2 separate regions of the Homo sapiens genome follow, and region 2 is reported to be linked to region 1. Evidence: microRNA targets listed by miRTarBase, many of them from high-throughput screens and not tested one by one. Region 1 holds a microRNA gene; the other region holds the end of a gene's coding sequence.

Evidence for each region. The annotated mature microRNA hsa-miR-6823-5p reads UCAGGGUUGGUAGGGGUUGCU and lies in region 1 at 3,364-3,384, opposite strand. An mRNA with a match to its seed (bases 2 to 7 or 8) in the 3' UTR can be bound and repressed. Matches are read on the target gene's strand: a 7mer-m8 pairs with bases 2 to 8, a 7mer-A1 pairs with bases 2 to 7 and ends in A, and an 8mer does both.
Region 2: the mRNA of ZHX1 is a reported target of hsa-miR-6823-5p. Seed matches in the 3' UTR shown: 8mer at 3,174-3,181.

What each region holds. Positions count from the first base shown.
Region 1 is chr3:48,546,633-48,555,288 of GRCh38, forward strand. MIR6823 (microRNA 6823) reads right to left here and starts at 3,389; the gene lies at 3,329-3,389. PFKFB4 (6-phosphofructo-2-kinase/fructose-2,6-biphosphatase 4) reads right to left here. Exons shown (of 14, transcript NM_004567.4): 2 at 3,486-3,602; 3 at 3,232-3,328. RefSeq lists enhancers at 3,800-4,463, 4,464-5,125, 5,126-5,789, 5,790-6,451.
Region 2 is chr8:123,246,659-123,255,314 of GRCh38, forward strand. ZHX1 (zinc fingers and homeoboxes 1) reads right to left here. Exons shown (of 4, transcript NM_007222.5): 3 at 6,664-8,656; 4 at 1,798-3,662. The coding sequence ends at 6,667. The region is part of intron 2 of ZHX1-C8orf76 (ZHX1-C8orf76 readthrough); the gene reads right to left. Among named protein-coding and RNA genes, the nearest start is that of C8orf76, 9.6 kb to the left of the region's middle. RefSeq lists an enhancer at 4,387-4,596.

The sequences.
Region 1 (8,656 bases):
GCCAGGGTTGGGGAACTTGATGGTAAACAGTTCCCTCTAGTGATATGAAACTTTCCCTGAATTATAAGAGGAGCTCACTGTGCATAGACTGTTTATACAAACAACATGGTTTATGTTGATTATCTGCTTTCCTTCTGGGAGTCTGGAATTTTGGTACATGCTAGGCACAGGGTGCCTATATGACCAGCCCCCAGTAAAAACCTTGGTCGTTGAGTCTCTGATGAATTTCCCTGGCAGACAACATTTTACACATGTTGTCAATGTTCAATGCAGGAGGAATTAAGTGCGTCCTGTGTGACTCCATGAGGAGAAAATCTTGATGCTCGCTCCTGGTTTCCTCTGGACTTCACCCCAGGCCCCTTTTTCTGATTTTGCTTTGTGTCATTTTGCCGTACTAAGTCTTAGCCATGAGTCCAGCTATATGCCAAGTCCTGGGAGTCACCCTAGCAAATCACTGAACCTGAGGGCAGTCTTGGGGACCCCCTACACACCATGTATGAGCGTGCTCAGGTGTGTGTGTATATACAGGGTGAGAACATGTGCGCCTTCGTGTGTGTAATGGCCCTTGAATTACGTGTGGCTTAAGTGAGCCCAAGTATTTATATGTGTAGGTGCCCACACATGTACATATACCCTTATGTATAACGTGACTGTGTACACAGGGGGTGTGCATGTGTATGTACCCTGTGCATATGGTATACGCATGTCCGGATGTGTGCCTATGAGGTATGCACATGCATGCATGTGCCCACGTGTGTGTGTGCATAGGGGGCTTGTGTGTGGTATAGGACTGTGTGCAGGAGTATGAGTGTGCCTGTTTAGAATATGTGTACTTATGCCCTTGCATACACTTTGTTTTTGAGACAGAGTCTTACTCTGTCACCCAGGCTGGAGCACAGAGACGCAATCTTGGCTCATTGCAACCTCCACCTCCCAGATTCAAGCAATTCTCATGCCTCAGCCTCCTGATGTAGCTGGGATGACAGGCGCCCCACCACATGTGGCTAATTTTTGTAATTTTAGTAGAGATGGGGTTTTGCCATGTTGGCCAGGCTGGTCTCAAACTCCTGGCCTCAAGTGATCCACCCACCTCGGCCTCCCAAAGTGCTGGGATTACAGGCGTGAATCACTGCACCCGGCCTTGCACGCACTTTTCTAGATCTTCTGCTGTGTCCAGTGTCAGAGATGGACCTCAACACTGTGTGAGTAACTGGGCCTCTGGGAAATGCAGCTGTCTCTTCCCAGGTTTTCCATTTTAAAAACTCTGGTCCTTTTATTTTGCTAATTGGGAAATTTTGGGCTGATTAATAGGAGATGGCCCTGTGGCCCAGCCAGAGCCAGGATTCGGATACAGCAGAGAGGGTTTCTAGGGCAGCCAGAGGGTATGCCTGCAGAAAGGCAGCAATGAGCCTGTCCCCAGCTTCTGTTGCAGGGTGACCTTGGACTAGCTTCCCAACCTCTCTGAGTCTAGGTCTCTTCATTTGAATTAATCCCAAATATCCCTACCTTAGGGGGACAGCCAGAGTGGAACAGCTGGCAGACTCTCCCCACAAACACTATGGATTCAGGCAGGACGGACTTCAAATTCAAACCCTGAGTGACCCAAGGCACCCCCATCACTTTCTGGCCTTGGTCCCAGCATCTGGAAAAGTGAGGCACCGCCCACCACAGAAGCTGCTGGGAAGATCAGACAGTAGGCTATCAGCGTCCACAGCTTGGGGTTGTTGGCTGAGGCAGAAGAATTGCTTGAACCTGGGAGGCGGAGGTTGCAGTCAGCTGAGATTGCACTACTACATTCCAGCCTGGGCGACAGAGTGAGACTCCATCACACACACACACAAATAATAATAATTTTTAAAATAAATAAATAAAATTTGCATTTGATGTTCCTTGACCTACCTATTGAGGAATATTGGAATGATGGACACTTTTTAGCGGTGGATGGGCTTAGATTCAAGTCTGGGCGCTGATGTAAACTTGCTATTTTGTGCGAGACTCCTGGCCTGTCTGAGCCTCAGTTTCCTCATCTGTAAAAGTAGGGGGTGACAATGGGCATCAAGAACCCAGCACACGGTAGGTTCAGACATTAGTCCTCTACTTTTTATCTGGCTCAATATAACCAGAGGGTCCAGCCTTGATTTTTACCCACAATTTGGCCATAGAAACCTGAATATCAGGCTCCCCTTCCCTTCTTGGTGCCACAGCCTGGCCCAGCCACACCGATGCAAGAACAAAGGCAGTCTCCAGTCTGAAGGTCCAAGCCCCACAGCAGGGAGTTCCTGCCCCCTGGTGGCCAGAGAAGGAACGGGTAGCCTAGTGTGGACCCCAGTGGCAGCCTGGTAGCCACTGGGCTTGATTTGGGGAAGTCACTAGAGCTGGGTCAACCTCTGCTCACTGCCCTATCCTGATGGCTGGGCCAAGAGCAAGTCTCTGCCACCCTAGGTTGATAAGGGGCTTCTCAAGACCACAGCTAACACCTCCTGAGAAAAGCACAGCATGGCTGCTCAGACCACCAGCTGGTGCTCAGTTCCTTGAAGAAAGGACTCAGTTCAAGTCTGAAAGTTGTTGAGGGTGGGGCGGTAGCATATACATATTTCTATCTCCAGAGTAACAGCAGAAGTGTGAACGACTCACCCAGCAGCATCTAGGAGATGTCAATGCAAAGCCAATCGCACCAGCAATCACACACCAAGAACATGCTCCAAATACACAGGAGAGAGCTTATCCTGGGGCAAGGGAGGAAGCCCCCCACCCCCAGCTCCATCCCTAAGGCCTGTATGCCTGCACTCACTCAGGTTCCCTTCCCCAGCAGCAGCCATCCCCACGGGGCGCTGGGGTGAGCGAGCGTGACCTCCAGGCAGCAGCTCCAACGACCTGCATGGGCTGAGCCCCTCTTACCTCCCTGAAGCTCTGTCCTTCCCAAGGGTTCCTTAACCCCAGGGCAGGAATGGCCCAGCCACCAGGAGGCCACACAACACACCCTCTCCTCTCATCCCCAAACCCATCACCTCCCACCCCCACCACATCCTGAGAGATCCAGAGACCAGCCTTGTCACACAGCCCTGTCACACAGCCATCAGGGCTGGGCAAGGCCAGGGCTCAGGAGTAGCTCAGTCATTCACCAGCAGCTCCACTCCAGGGGCTTCTCAGTAAATGGTCAGTAATGTGTTAGCTTTCTCCACACTGGGTCCCCCAGCAACCTCTCCCCCCACACCCAACACATATACTTACTTCCTGATTTTCAGGCCCTCTTCATTGTCGGGGAGAAAAAATTCAAAAGATTTGTAGGTCTTGACCACGTCCCGGCGATACTGGCCAACATTGAACTCTGGAGGGAAGGAGAGGCTCAGCTTTCACAGCAACAGCAACCCCTACCAACCCTGACCTTGACCCAACCCCAGGCCAAATAATAGAGAATAGGCCTTCTCTATTCTCTTCGTCATGCCCCACAAAGCTCCCCTTAGACAGCTGGGGCCAAGCCTCACCCCGAGTGGGCACACCAATCCAGTTCAGGTATCGAGTCAGCTTCTTGGAGATGTAGGTCTTGCCCCTGGCGGGCAGGCCCACCATGACAATGAGAGTTGGGCAGTTGGTCATGCACACTAAAAGGCAAGCAGCACAGTGTCAGATGAGGGCTGGGACCCTCCCAGCGCACCCCTCCCTCTCAGCCTGTGGTCTCTCAGCCTCAGGGCATGGGACTGGCATCAGACGTATCTTCTTGGCTTCCTAGCATCCCCACACAGCTCCTGGAGTGGCCCCAGATGCTGGTTTCAAGCCACCGTTGGCATGTCCCCCTTCCCCAGGCCCGCCTGGGCTCTGGCAGACACAGTGGGATCTCTCCAGCCCTTTTCATCCTGATGTGCACCACCAGGCATAAAGTCAACCGAACTTGCCACTGGCTAAACATGGCTAGGGGGGTCCCCACCGCATGAAGGACAGGACCAAAACCCAGCAGGGTAATCAACACCCTGCCTCTGTCATCCAGGAATCCATACCCTAACCTTTTTACATCTCTCCCACCCCATCCATCACTCAGTGCTCCCAGAACACATAGCCCCACTGCATGCCCTCCCTGTGGTGAACTTCTTTTCATCATACAAAGCCCAGCTAAAAAGTCACTTCCTCAATGAGTCCTTTCCCCAAGGCATCTCCATGGCCACCGGGAACACCCCTCACCCTCAATCCTGGTCACCTCACTAATGACACTCTTCTCTCTAGACTGATCACTTACAGCAGAAGAAGCCCTGTGGTATCTGAGCCCTTTAGGGCCCTGGGGCCTGGCACAGCGCTGGTGCTCAGGAACTGTGGGCAGGATCAGGGAGGGAGGCATCTAGAAGTCTCTCAGGGTAAGGACCACAAGGGGTTGAGACCAGAGACCCAGACTGATGCCCACAAGGACAGTCCCTCTGATAGCCCACCCACCACCATCCATGTGCCACAGGTCAGTGTGCCAGCCAGAGAAGATGCCAGGCTAGAGGCACGGAAGGATCTGAATACAGCCCCCTATATTCCCAGCTGGCTAGAACAGATACCAAGGCAGCAGAACTGCCAGCTTCATCTTATGGGACCTAGCTCACTTTTCTTTTTTTTTTTTTTTTTTTGAGACGGAGTCTCACTCTGTTGCCCAGGCTGGAGGGCAGTGGTGCGATCTTGGCTCACTGCAACCTCTGCCTCCCAGGTTCAAGCGATTCTCCTGCCTCAGCCTCCCAAGTATCTAGGATTACAGACACCTGCCACCACACCTGGCTAATTTTTGTATTTTCAGTAGAGACGGGGTTTCGGCATGTTGGTCAGGCTGGTCTCAAAACTCCTGACCTCAGGTGATCCGACTGCCTGGGCCTCCCAAAGTGCTGGGATTACAGGTGTGAGCCATCACCTCCAGCCTTCTTTTTTTTTTTTTTTTTTTTTTTTTTTTTTTTTGAGAGGGAGTCTCGCTCTGTCGCCCTTGCCCAGGCTGGAGTGCTGGAGGACACTGGTACCCAGCTCACTGCAACCTCTGCCTCCCGGGCTCAAGCAATTCTCGTGCCTCAGCCTCTCAAGTAGCTGGGATTACAAGCACATGCCACCACACCTGGCTAATTTTTGTATTTTCAGTAGAGACAGGATTTCATTATGTTAGTCAGGCTGGTCTCGAATTCCTGACCTCAGGTGATCTGCCTGCCTCGTCCTCCCAAAGTGCTGGGATTACAGGCGTGAGCCCAGCCCTCAGCTCAGTTTCCAGTGCCATCAAACGCGGTCTCACGTCAGAAGCCTCAGGAAGCTTCCTTTTCCTCATCCTTAGGACCTGGGTCAGGTAAAACCATAGCAGACAGGCAGATGAACAGATGTGGGGACCTGTCACTGCCCCTCTTCTTGGTTCTGCAAGTGCCTTCACCTGGTTGCCTAGACAGACTGTCCCCACCAACAAGTTGTTTCCCTCAGAGCACAGAGGCCCCAGAAGCACTTCCGCAGGGGATCAGGAGTCAGGCCTGGGTTGCCATCTTGAGTCTGACACTCATTGGGAACTCTGAGCCTCGGTGTCCCCAGCTGTAAAATGGGGCAGTCATCCCTCAGAGAAGCCTAGTGCTATCCAAGAGCCTGGGCACTTCTGGGAAGCTGTGCCCTCTGTCCTACCCTGGCGGATACTGAGCTAAAGCCATAGGTGTACCTCGGCACCGACTGCCCTTGGGACTCAGGGCATGGAGGCGGTGGCCTGGCCCCAGGCAGGCCCTGCAGAGAAACAAAGGGCCTTGCTTGCCAGTGGGGGCTCCATCACTCCTGTGCATTCCCCTTGTTTAAAGGTGACCCAAATGGTGAGCCTCAGGGGCGGGAAGGAGGAGACCCCATGAAACAGGCTGACTGAGTGAGAGTGGAGAAACTTGCAGAGAACTCTCAGTATTAGCTAAGGTGAGAGGAAAACAAGTTAGGCAAGGCCTTGCCTCCTCAGGGCCGGTGGACAGCTGAGGCCCGCATTGTGCATTGTTTGCATAGTTCCCGGCCAGGTGGCCGGGCTCTCAAGCAACCAAGGGCAGTGCGACAGCTGCTAAGCAGGAGGAAATCCTGCATCTACCCTGCTCCCGCTGATGGGGCCACCCCCCAACTGCTCCTTCAGGGACTCCCAAAACCTCAGGACTGGGGATCTGCACCCCCTCTCCACATCTCCTATTTTCCCAGAGACAGCTCCAGCCTCCTCCCATGGCATTTGGTGGCATTTCCCTTCCCGCCTTCCACCCACATGCGCAGCACAAGGTGGGCAGGCAGGGCAGCAAATCAGGCCTGGGTGCAAAACAAGGCAATAAATTACCTATCTCCTCTGCTCCCCAAGATAAGCTCCCAAGGAAATGACCCAAAAGAAAACCAAAGTTCAAGTGTATCACAACAGCTCTGCTTACCATAGCAAAACACTGGGAAATTCCAGCCATAAGAAATTGCCAACTGAGGCACAACAAGGAGGGAACACATTGCAGCTCTCAAAACAGAGCACGTGGACTAAGCGGGCTGGGTGCACGGCTGCACCTGTGGCTCTGAGCCCACAGGACCCTGACACTGAGCAAACAGGATGGTAGAATACACTGTTTATAGCTGGGCGTGATGGCACATGCCTGTAATCCCAGCACTTTGGGAGGCCGAGGCAGGCAGATCACCTGAGGTCAGGAGTTCGAGACCAGCTTGGCCAACATGGTGAAACCCTGTCTCTACTAAAAATACAAAAATTAGCCGGGTGTGGTGGTGCACACCTGTAATCCCAGCTACTCGGGAAGCTGAGACAGGAGAATTGCTTTAACACAGGAGGCAGAGGTTGCAGTGAGCCAAGATTGTGCCACTGCACTCCAGCCTGGGGGACAAAGCAAGACTGTCTCCAAAAAAAAAAAAGAACACACTGTTTATAACATTGAGCATGTGCGGAAGGAAATGTGAAGACATGTCAGCCCAACTTCCCTCATGGGTTCCTTTCCTGTAAATTCGCTGCAGGCCCCATGAGCTCTAGGAGCGAAGGGGCCCAAGGGGCCTGAGACGTGCCTGGCAATGGGCAGTGTCTATGTTCCATTACTTCTACCCAAGGAGCAGCCACAAGTCCCTGGAGGGGGTGCCAGAATTGACTCCTGAACTGCAACTGCTCTCACCTCCTTAGGCCAGGCTAGGGAAGGAAGAGCTCTTTAAAATAAAGTAACGTGCCATGGAGGCCCTTTTCAGAGGGGACTGAAAGTCATCTCTCCTGTTGCCCTGTGCACACACCAGTCATGTCCTTACCCAGGAAGAGTCTTGCCACCTTTCAGCTGAGAAAAGCCATCAAACACCGTCCTTTCTGCAGTCCTTCTTGAGTCAGCTCTTGCCCCACCTGCCCTCAGAGTTCCTCCAGGTCTGAGCTCGGAGGCCAATGATGGGAAAGGTAAAAGCCTCCCAAGCCCTCAGGTGTGGCTTTAAATTTTATCAAGCGGGGGCGTGCCTGTGGGAGTGGAGGAGGTGCAGTACATCCCTCAGTCCACCAGCCCCTAGTGCCCTGAGGAGCTGGGGACTAGACTCCAGAGAAAACCCAGTACAAAGCACAGACCAGCAGTGGGTCCTGCTTCTTCCTCCCCACAAAGCCCTGGGACCAAATCCGCTTCCATCCCCACCCACACCCTCCGGGTCCAGACTGTCCTTGCAGTCACTCAACCTACAAGTCTACTATGCAAAGGGTAAAGTGTTGCCCAAATGCAGGCACTGGGAGCTGGAGGTGCTGCATGGGCGGGTTCCATGTTCATTCACTGCTTACCCACTCCCTGCTGTGAACCCTGAGGCCCAAATCCCCAAACAACCTGCAGGTCTCATCTTTGGCCTCTCAGGTGCTACCTCCTCCTCCAGGAAAAAGTGCGGACCTAGAACCCAGCCTACCCCAACACCCTGAGACACCGTGATGGCACGAGCCCCTCAGCTCAGGCCAGAGCCACATTTCAGTTCCACACTTAGAGCCTGGAGAAACACAAGCCCTGCCTCAGGAGCTATGAGACCTTCCCATTGGGCCTCAGCTTCCTCTCACCTGTAACGGGGGTTGGCTTGGAGCTGATGCATCAATCCCTGACTCAGACGTAGTGAGAAGCAAAGAAAGAATGGTAGTGATGACAGAATACCCTGCCTCCGCTTATTGAGGACCTACTCCTTAAAGGCTCACAGACTTGGCTAGGCATGGCAGCTCATGCCTGTAATCCCAACACTTTGGGAGGCCAAGGGGGGCAGATCATTAGAGATAACGAATTCAAGACGAGCCTGGCCAACATGGTGAAACTCCATCCTACTAAAAATACAAAATTAGCCGGCCATGGTGGCGCATACCTGTAATCCCAGCAACTTGGAAGGCTGAGGCAGGAGAATTGCTTGAACCCAGGAGGTAGAGGTTGCAGTGAGCTGAGATAGGACCACTGCACTACAACCTGGGCAACAAGAGTGAAACTCCGTCTCAAAAAAAAAAAAAAAAAAAAAGTCCAGGTCCTCACTCCTTTCCCCTATGTAGTAATAGCAGCCACCCCCCTAAGTCAGGACCACACAGCCCTAATAACACAGACTGGCTCAGCCTCCCCGCCTCCAGAAGAGTCTCAAAGGAGGGGTGGCCATAGCCCTCAGGACTGAGTGTGCATTATAGACAGCACAGCCCCACCAGGACCTACATCACAATCAAAGCCATGAGTTACCACGACTT
Region 2 (8,656 bases), not on the chromosome of region 1:
ATACTGATTTGGGGGTTACAAATACATTTTAATGTGTAGGCAAATTTGCATATACAGAATCCATAATGAGGATCAACTTATTTGCAAATCATAATACAGACAGTCCCCAACTTATGATGGACTTAAGATGGATTTACTAACACATAATCCCATGGTAACCTAACCCCATAGTAAACTGAGAAACACATGGATTTATAATTTATGATTGTGACCAGGTGCAGTGGCTCATGCCTGTAATCCTGGCACTTTGGGAGGCTGAGGTGGGTGGATCACCTGAGGTCAGGAGTTTGAGACCAATCTGGCCAACATGGTGAAACCCCGTCTCTACTAAAAATATAAAAATTAGATGGGCATGGTGGCGGGCACCTGTAATCCCAGCTACTTGGGAGGCTGAGGCATGAGAATCGCTTGAACCAAGGAGGCAGAGGTTGCAGTGAACTAAGATGGTGCCACTGCACTCCAGCCTGGGCAACAGAGACTCTGTCTCAAAAAATAGTAATAGTTTATGATAGTTCAAGTTTATGGTGAGTTCATCAGGGTATTAAATGGATTTTCAACTTACAAAAATTTTAACTTACAATGGGTTTATCAGGACAAACCCCATTCTAAGTCAAGAAGCAACTGTATCTGATAAAGCTGTAACATCCAGAATATATAAAGAACTAAAACTCAGCAACAAAAAGGCAACCCAATTAAAAACTGGGCAAAGGATTGAACAAACTTTCAATATATTCAAAGGAAGATATACAAATAATTATGTGAAAAGATGTAGTTTTGATTTGCATTTTCCTAATGACATTATCACTCATCATTAGGGAAACACAAATCAAAACCACAATGAGACACCACTTCATACTTACTAGGATGGTTATAATTTTTATTATTTTATTTTTAGAGATGGGGTCTCACTATATTGCTCTCACTGGCCTCAAATACCTAGGCTCAAGTGATCCTCCCACCTCAGCCTCCCTGGTAGCTGGGACTACAGACACAGACCATCGCACTGGGCTTATAATCACTTTTTAAAACTGAAAATGAAAGGTGTTGGCAAAAATGTGGAGAAACTGGAATGCTTGTATATTGCTAGTGGAACGTAAAATGGTACAGATGCTTCAGAGAACATTTTAGCACTGTGGAAGAGTTTGGTGGTTCCTCAACAAATTAAACACAGAATACCACATGATTCAGGAATACTACTCCTTGATATACTCAAAAGAACTGAAAATGGGTACTCAGATCCTTGTATACCAATGTTCACCGCAGCATTATTCACAATTGCCAAAAGGCGGGAAAAAAACAAGTTTCCATCAACAGATACATGGATAAACAAAATGTGTGTGGGAGGAAGTGCACGTGTACAGACAAACACACACACACACACACAATAAAACATAAATCAGCCATGAAAAGAAACAAAGTCTTGATATACGCTAAAACATGGATGAACTTGAAAACATTATAAGTTAAAATAAGCCAGACACAAAAGGGCAAATATTTTAGGATTCTACTTCTTTGAAATATCAAGAATACACAAATTCATAGAGACAAAAAGTAGATTAGAGGTTACCAGGGGCTGGGAGGAATGGGGAGTTATTGCTTAATGGTTCCGAGTTTCTGTCTGGGGTGATGAAAAACTTTTGGAAAAGTGGTGAAGGTGGTGCAGCACTGTGAATATAATTAATGCCATTGAATTTACACTTAAAAACTGGTATAATGGCAAATAGTATGTGATATATATTTTACCACAATGTTTTAAAAATTGACTTTGTTAATAAAATGAAAAAAAAAAGGTCACTGTAAACTACTAATCACTACTTTTATTTTGTATTCAAGGTCACAATCAACCAGAAGAGGGTTCTTTTGCTCTGTCAAATAAATATATTTAAAAGCTAGCAAACGTCAGAGAAGAGTTTTATCAGGCCTATAAAAGAGATGAGGGAAATTAATAGTTATATACAGCTACACAGAGTTAACATATTGCAAGGGAAACAACTATATTCAAAGGCTTCATTTCTAATACTTGACATTTCAAATTTTGAGAACATTAAAATTATTGTCAAACAAAACTCAGACCACATTAGCAATGTTTATAAAAGGGAGCAATTTAATCATTATATTACAGAGTGCTTTAAGAAGTTTTTAAACGTGTAAAAGAAAAAAAAAAAGCTTAGTGCATTACGGTCTTTACATTGCTTCTTTTTTAAAAAAGTTAACAGTAGTATGAAAAAAGCCACCCACAAAGCCAGCTGTCTGAGTGAGGAAATCAGCTACATTGCAGCATTTTGGAATTACTAATAAAGCTATAGTTAAAAAATAAAAAGTTTATAAAAATGAAAGCAGCATGCATATTCAAGGCTTTTTCATAACATTTTCAATGGCTGAAAAACATTTAACCAAGAGCTTAATATTTATTATCCATTAAATTAGAGAAAATAAACTGGCTAAGCCTACATCTGGTCATTCAGAAAAACATGTTAAAATCCAAAGCTAATTAAACTGAACATTTCTTCTACGAAGAAAGCGCATTTTGAAAAATGGTCCTATGGTCACAAAAGAAAGGGTTCTTCCCAATATGAATGAACAGCACCAGTCTTTACAAAGTTTGTAAATTAGTATGAACTTTCAGTCTCCTGATACGGCAAGAGTTAACAGTTAACACTCCCATGATTCATAAGTGAAAAGCTAACTTTTAACTCATTATGATCAGTTCAGAATTTTTTCTCTATTCACTGAAACTGTTATAAAATTTCACTGAAAGATAACTCTTAAAAATTCTGATCTGACACCTGTATAAACATTTCTGATTTCCACGATTGTAAGAAAACACTAAGTATACATTTACTACGTGATTCTTTTTCACATTTTTGGTGCAGTATTTATTTCAAAGCTTCACCCTATCCAAATTACCATGTCAGTTTCTTTTCCTTCTTCAGAATTAATTTCCTGCAGTTTAATAAAAAGCAAATCAGCTTCTAATGGAACAAGTAACAGTAGAAACAGTGGTATTCATGGATGTGTTTAATGAAGGATCCAATTATTAAGGGCCAGTGAAACCATAAAATCTTATTGTTTCAACATATATAAATAGGCTGTTTTTACATTTGAAATTGTATAAGCCCATGCACAACTTTTAATCTTAGTGCAGGGTCTGATAAATAAGACATAGTAATAAATCAGGGTTTTTTTTTTTTTTTTTTTTTTACCCATTTCTAACAATTTTTACTGTAAAATTTTTGGTCAAAGTTCTAAGCTTAATCACATCTCAAAGAATAGAGGCAATATATAGCCCATCTTACTAGACATACAGTATTAAACTGGACTGAATATGAGGACAAGCTCTAGTGGTCATTAAACCCCCTCAGAAAGTCTAAGATTCAGAATGTCTCCATCATATTAGAAGAAAAATGTACTGTATTAAAATTTAAATTGCATTTTTACAAGTTGTTTTTTAATTAGTGTTCTATTTACATTGCAGAACTTCCACCAACTGCAGTAGTTTAACTTTGGCACAACATTAAGTTCCATTTCTTTTGGGTATTGGATCCTGCTTTTTGAGTGTGTATGCCCCAAAACGTTTTCAATGTCATCAAAGATTGGGCAAATTCACAGTAAATCAGACATCTTGAGTTGAAGAATTGATTCTCCTTCAACGTTTTAGGCAGCTAAAAAAGAAAAACATCATAAAAAACTGAAAATTTAAAGAAAACCATATTTTAATTTTTACTACTTTTAGAAATAAAAGTGAAAATACATCTTTTGTATTCTCTTGAGATTACCTGCCACATATGTCTTCCATAATACACTAGGCTTTGTGTGCAACTCATCTATGTATATGTTCTTCATATGCTAGATTTGCTTATAAACATTTATCATCTTTATGTAATAATTTATTTCAAACTGTATGAGCAGGGAGTATATATTTCATTGTCAGTATCTGTAATAAGCAGACTATGAAATCTAAAGACTTGTACTTTTTTCTATTTCTATACAAGGTGCAAAAGATATATATGTACCTCACTTCCTGTAATAACTATTTTGGGAAGGTTTTGGTAACTTTTTTGGTAAATTGAACAATATTTAAATGAAGAAATAACTATTTAGAGAAGGCTATGGTGAATCCTCTTATAAGTGAAAAATTATTTTACTCAGCCAAGGATAACTTGATGTTTCAGAAATTTAGACTTTTGTGTATTTAAAAAGGCATGCTTCTATGCTATCACAAAAGTATATAATATGGTTTGGCTCTGTGTCCCCATCCAAATCTTACCTTGAATTGTAATTATTAAGGGACAGTGATACCACAAAATCTTATTGTTTCAACATATGTAAATAGGCTGTTTTTACATTTGAAATTGTATAAGCCCATACATAACTTTTAATCAGGGAGTGTCGGGGGAGGGAGCCTGGTGGGAGGTGACTGAATCATGGGGGTGGACTTCCCCTCTGGCTGTTCTCATGATAGTGAGTGAGTTCTCAGGAGATCTGGTTGTTTGAAAGTTGTGTGGAACATCCCCTTTCGCTCTCTCTCCTGTTCGGTCATGGTGAGATGTGCTTGCTTCCCCTTCTTCCCCTTCGCCTTCTGCCATGACTGTAAGTTTCTTGGGGCCTCCCAGTCATGCTTCTTGTTAAGCCGGCAAAACTGTGAGTCAACTAAACCTCTTTTCTTCATAAATTACCCAGTCTCAGGTCGTTCTTTATAGCAGTGTGAAAATGGACTAATACAGTGCATGTATAGCATACATCATACAGTCTTTTGAAAACTGTAGTTTTAGGATGAATTTTCTGACCAGAATTAGTATCCATTACAGTGTTAATATATAACATAAGAATTATCTATACAAAATTAAAGGTCAAACTAAACTGTACAGAAAAATTCACATTATTTTTGGAAGACTGCAACTCCCCAAAAAAATCATTGCAGAGGTTACAACAACAACATTCACTGCAGCAACAAATTTGTTGATTTAATCTTGGCTGAGTGCACATTCTTGTGTTTAGCAATAAAAAAAATGCCTGTTAAAAATATTTTATGTATCTGGGTCAGAAGAAAGCCTGCTCTGAAGATTTCTGACATTAGGAAATGGAGGGCTGCACTTCAGGATAAAGCTGTATGAAACTGTTTAACTTCTTATAACCTAAAATGATTACATTATACCCTATAACCTGGAATGATATTTATACTGCTTATTAAAACAGGTACATTTTTAGTTTCATCTGTTATCCCTTAAAAAATATTAACAAGGAGAAAACCTGAAAAAGGATTGCCAAGCAGTAAGAATAGTGCCTGGTACATATTAAGCTCTCTATAAATAATTGTTAAAATAAATAAAACCAGAGAGAAGATGTAAGGGAATTAAGGAAAAACTGCACAGAATAACAGAGCATAAAAGTAGGGGATGGGATACTCATGCAAAAAGCCAAGGAAATAAGTAAGCATGCTCACGTATAAAATAATAATGAGGGTCTACGTCTCATTTCCTTCCTTACTGTTTGAACACAGCAGTCATTTCTGATAGCAAGATGCTATTTGGACTACTGACAGACATACACAAACATTTCATGACAACTGCATTGTTTTCAAAACAGTGTACTTTTACCCCGGAACACTCCAAAACAAAGAATAGCAAAGAATAAAACTATGTTATTAAATTCCAGAAGTATTAAGAATTCAATTCCTAACTCCAAAGCAGGTATCTGATTTGCAACTACAGTTCAACTTTAATTAATCCAATTTATAAAAGAACTAAGATTTAAGGAACATGCCAAAACCTTTCAAATTTAAGCCATATTTATTTGCATTTTTAAGACTACAGAGATATACTTTAAATCAAATACAATGTTAGTGCTGGTAGCAGGTTTGTTTTATACCAAAGAATGAAAAGATATTTTAAGCAATTGGGTTTATATCAAATCTGTTATTTGCCTTTTGATCTCTAAAACAGAAATAATTTATATCACAGTTTTCAAAGACAGATGCCGCCTAAGCAAACATGAATTTATATATGGCCTAAAACAGACCTTTGACTTTTAACAGAAAAAGATATTGAGTAATTTTATAAATTACTAAAAAGATACTGAGTAATTTCATAAATACATAAAGCATTTTAAACTCTAGTTAAAAGTCTAGTAAAGTTTTGGGAGCAATGCAATGAAGATGAAAAGATACCCATTTTCACCTAGTTTCCTAAAACTGCACAATCCTCAACCCTGTGGTAAGTCTTTCCTTTGGTGTACTTTTCCCCTTCTTTTTAGTTTTCATTTTTGAATTATTTCCTTAAATAGGCAAAAAATGAAGCTTTAGTGAAGGGGGCATTGCAATAAAATACATTTTAGTTATCTTTAGTATTTGTTTGTGAATCCCCTCAACCTGCCTGCCAGTCTCCCTTCATAGAGATTGGGTAACTTTCCTTCAAAACAAAGTAAAAAAAACCCAATTCATATGAAAAATAATAATTAAGACATTAAACTCTACATAATAATAATAAAACTACACATGATAATCATTTATCTCTTAGCTATACTAGTGGTACCTAGTCTTATTAGGGAAAAGAAAAACTACTTCAGAAAATATCAAAAATGAAGATGACTGATACAACAAGGTGACTGTTCAAAATGTATGTGGTTGATGAACATATACGCAGATTAAAAATTTTCTTAACTTACATTTCAGTCATCTGATTTAGACAGCTTCCGTTTCACATGTCGTGGAGGTTCCCAAGTGTCACTATCATCTGTTTCTTCTTCATCCTCTTCCTGGTCATCAATAACTTCATCTTCCTCCTCATTTTCCTCAAATAATTCTATACCTAATTCTGATCTTCTCTGTCTTTCTGCAAACCACTCTCTGACCTGCTCATAGCCCATATGTGATTTGTTAACAAGTTCATCAAGGTCTTGCTCATTAAGAAACTTGTGCTTCAGGTAATAATCCTTAAGTATTGCAGTTCCAGTTTTAAATTTTATGAGTGATGGTCCCCTGTCCCAGTTGTTAATTCTTTTGCTTCCTCTAGGCCGCCCACGCGGTCTTCCTCTTCCCCGTCCTTTGGGTCTCCCTCTCCCTCTTTTCCTAAGGGAAGACAGACCATTCATACTACTTGAATTGGCGCTCTGATAGTAGTAGTACCATTTCAAGTTTCCATTCTTCCAAGCATAACGGGTGTCCCCAAACCAACTAACTATGTCTGTTCTAGCAAGCCCGCTTTCTTTGGCCAACTTGTCATACTCTTCTGGTGATGGCCACTGTGTCCGGACAAATGCACTCTTAAGCATGTGCAGCTGCTCAGGTGTTTTTTTACATATCTTGCCTGTACTCCCTGACTTAGGTGCACCAGATTCATCTGCAGGAGAAGTTTCTCCAGCTTCTTCTTTGGAACTACCTGCATTACTTTCATCTATTTCCATTTTCTCTTCCTTTAAAGCTTTTGATTTCTTCTTCTCTGTAAACCAAGCATCGATTTCTCTTCTGGTAAGTTTGGTTTGTGCCCTTAACCTATTTAATTCTTCATCTGTAAGTACAGAGCTGTTGAGAAAACTTGCCTGAAGGACACGAAGCTGCTCTGCAGTTTTCTCTTTAAACTTTTGGGGAGTAAAGTCAGGAAAAGGATTCCAGGATTGCTTAGGCTGTGCAGTACCAACAGTTGGGGATTCCGTGGTTTCATCACTGGAGTCTATAATAATGGTGGTAGAGGAATCATTGTTGAGATGTAAGCACTGATTACTCTTTGAATTTCTCTGGTTGTACCTTGTGTCACTAAACCATTTTTTAATCTCTCCTTTCGTCAGGCCTGTTATTTTCATAAGTCTGATAATTTCTGAATCATGGGGAAACTGATTTTTAAGGTAGCTAACTTTTAATTCTGCCAGTTGCTCTTTTGTCTTTTTTGCCCGAATGCCAAATGAATCAGGGTTTACCAATGCAGTTTCATGTTTGACACTTTGAGAAGTTGGAACTGCTGCTGTTGCTGGCTTTGTTTCTGCAGTAGGCTGAGCAGCAGGTACCTGACTTTTCTGTATATTATTTTGACTTGGAACGCCTGCCACTGTCAAGGCTATAGGTGCTGTAACTGGCAAGGTGTTTGTTCCAGCCACTTGAGTAAGGACCAGACCAGGCTGACCAACTATTTGGCATGTCTGTAAAATAGATGGTAAACCATTACTCCCTGTGGAAATGTGTGTAGGAATAACAGTTATGGTCTGAGGTACAGTATGCACTGTTCCATTGAATTGTTTCCTTCTTGCCTCCTCTACTTCCTCGGGAGTCCAACTAACACCATGTTTTAAACGTTGGGCTGAAAACCATATCTTGATCTGTTCCTCTGTATATTTTGCTTGAGCAGAAAGAACTGTAATTTCTGACATTGTTGGGTAAGGGAACTTGTTGTAGGTGTTAAGTAAAAGGGGATTGTTATCCAATGCAGCATTGTAGGTGGGAATGCTATTAACAGGGATTAAGACTTTGGGAATCAAATTAGAATTCTGCTGAGCAGATACAGCAGTTATCACCTGTGCCAATCCAGGAAGAACTGCTGCTGGTGTCACTACCGTGCTGGCAGTACTTGGATGTATTCTGTTTACAATGGAAGTACTTGTATTAGATTCAGAAGCTGAAGAACTTGGATTTTCTACAATTTCTTCACGGTCTGGTTTGATTTCATTC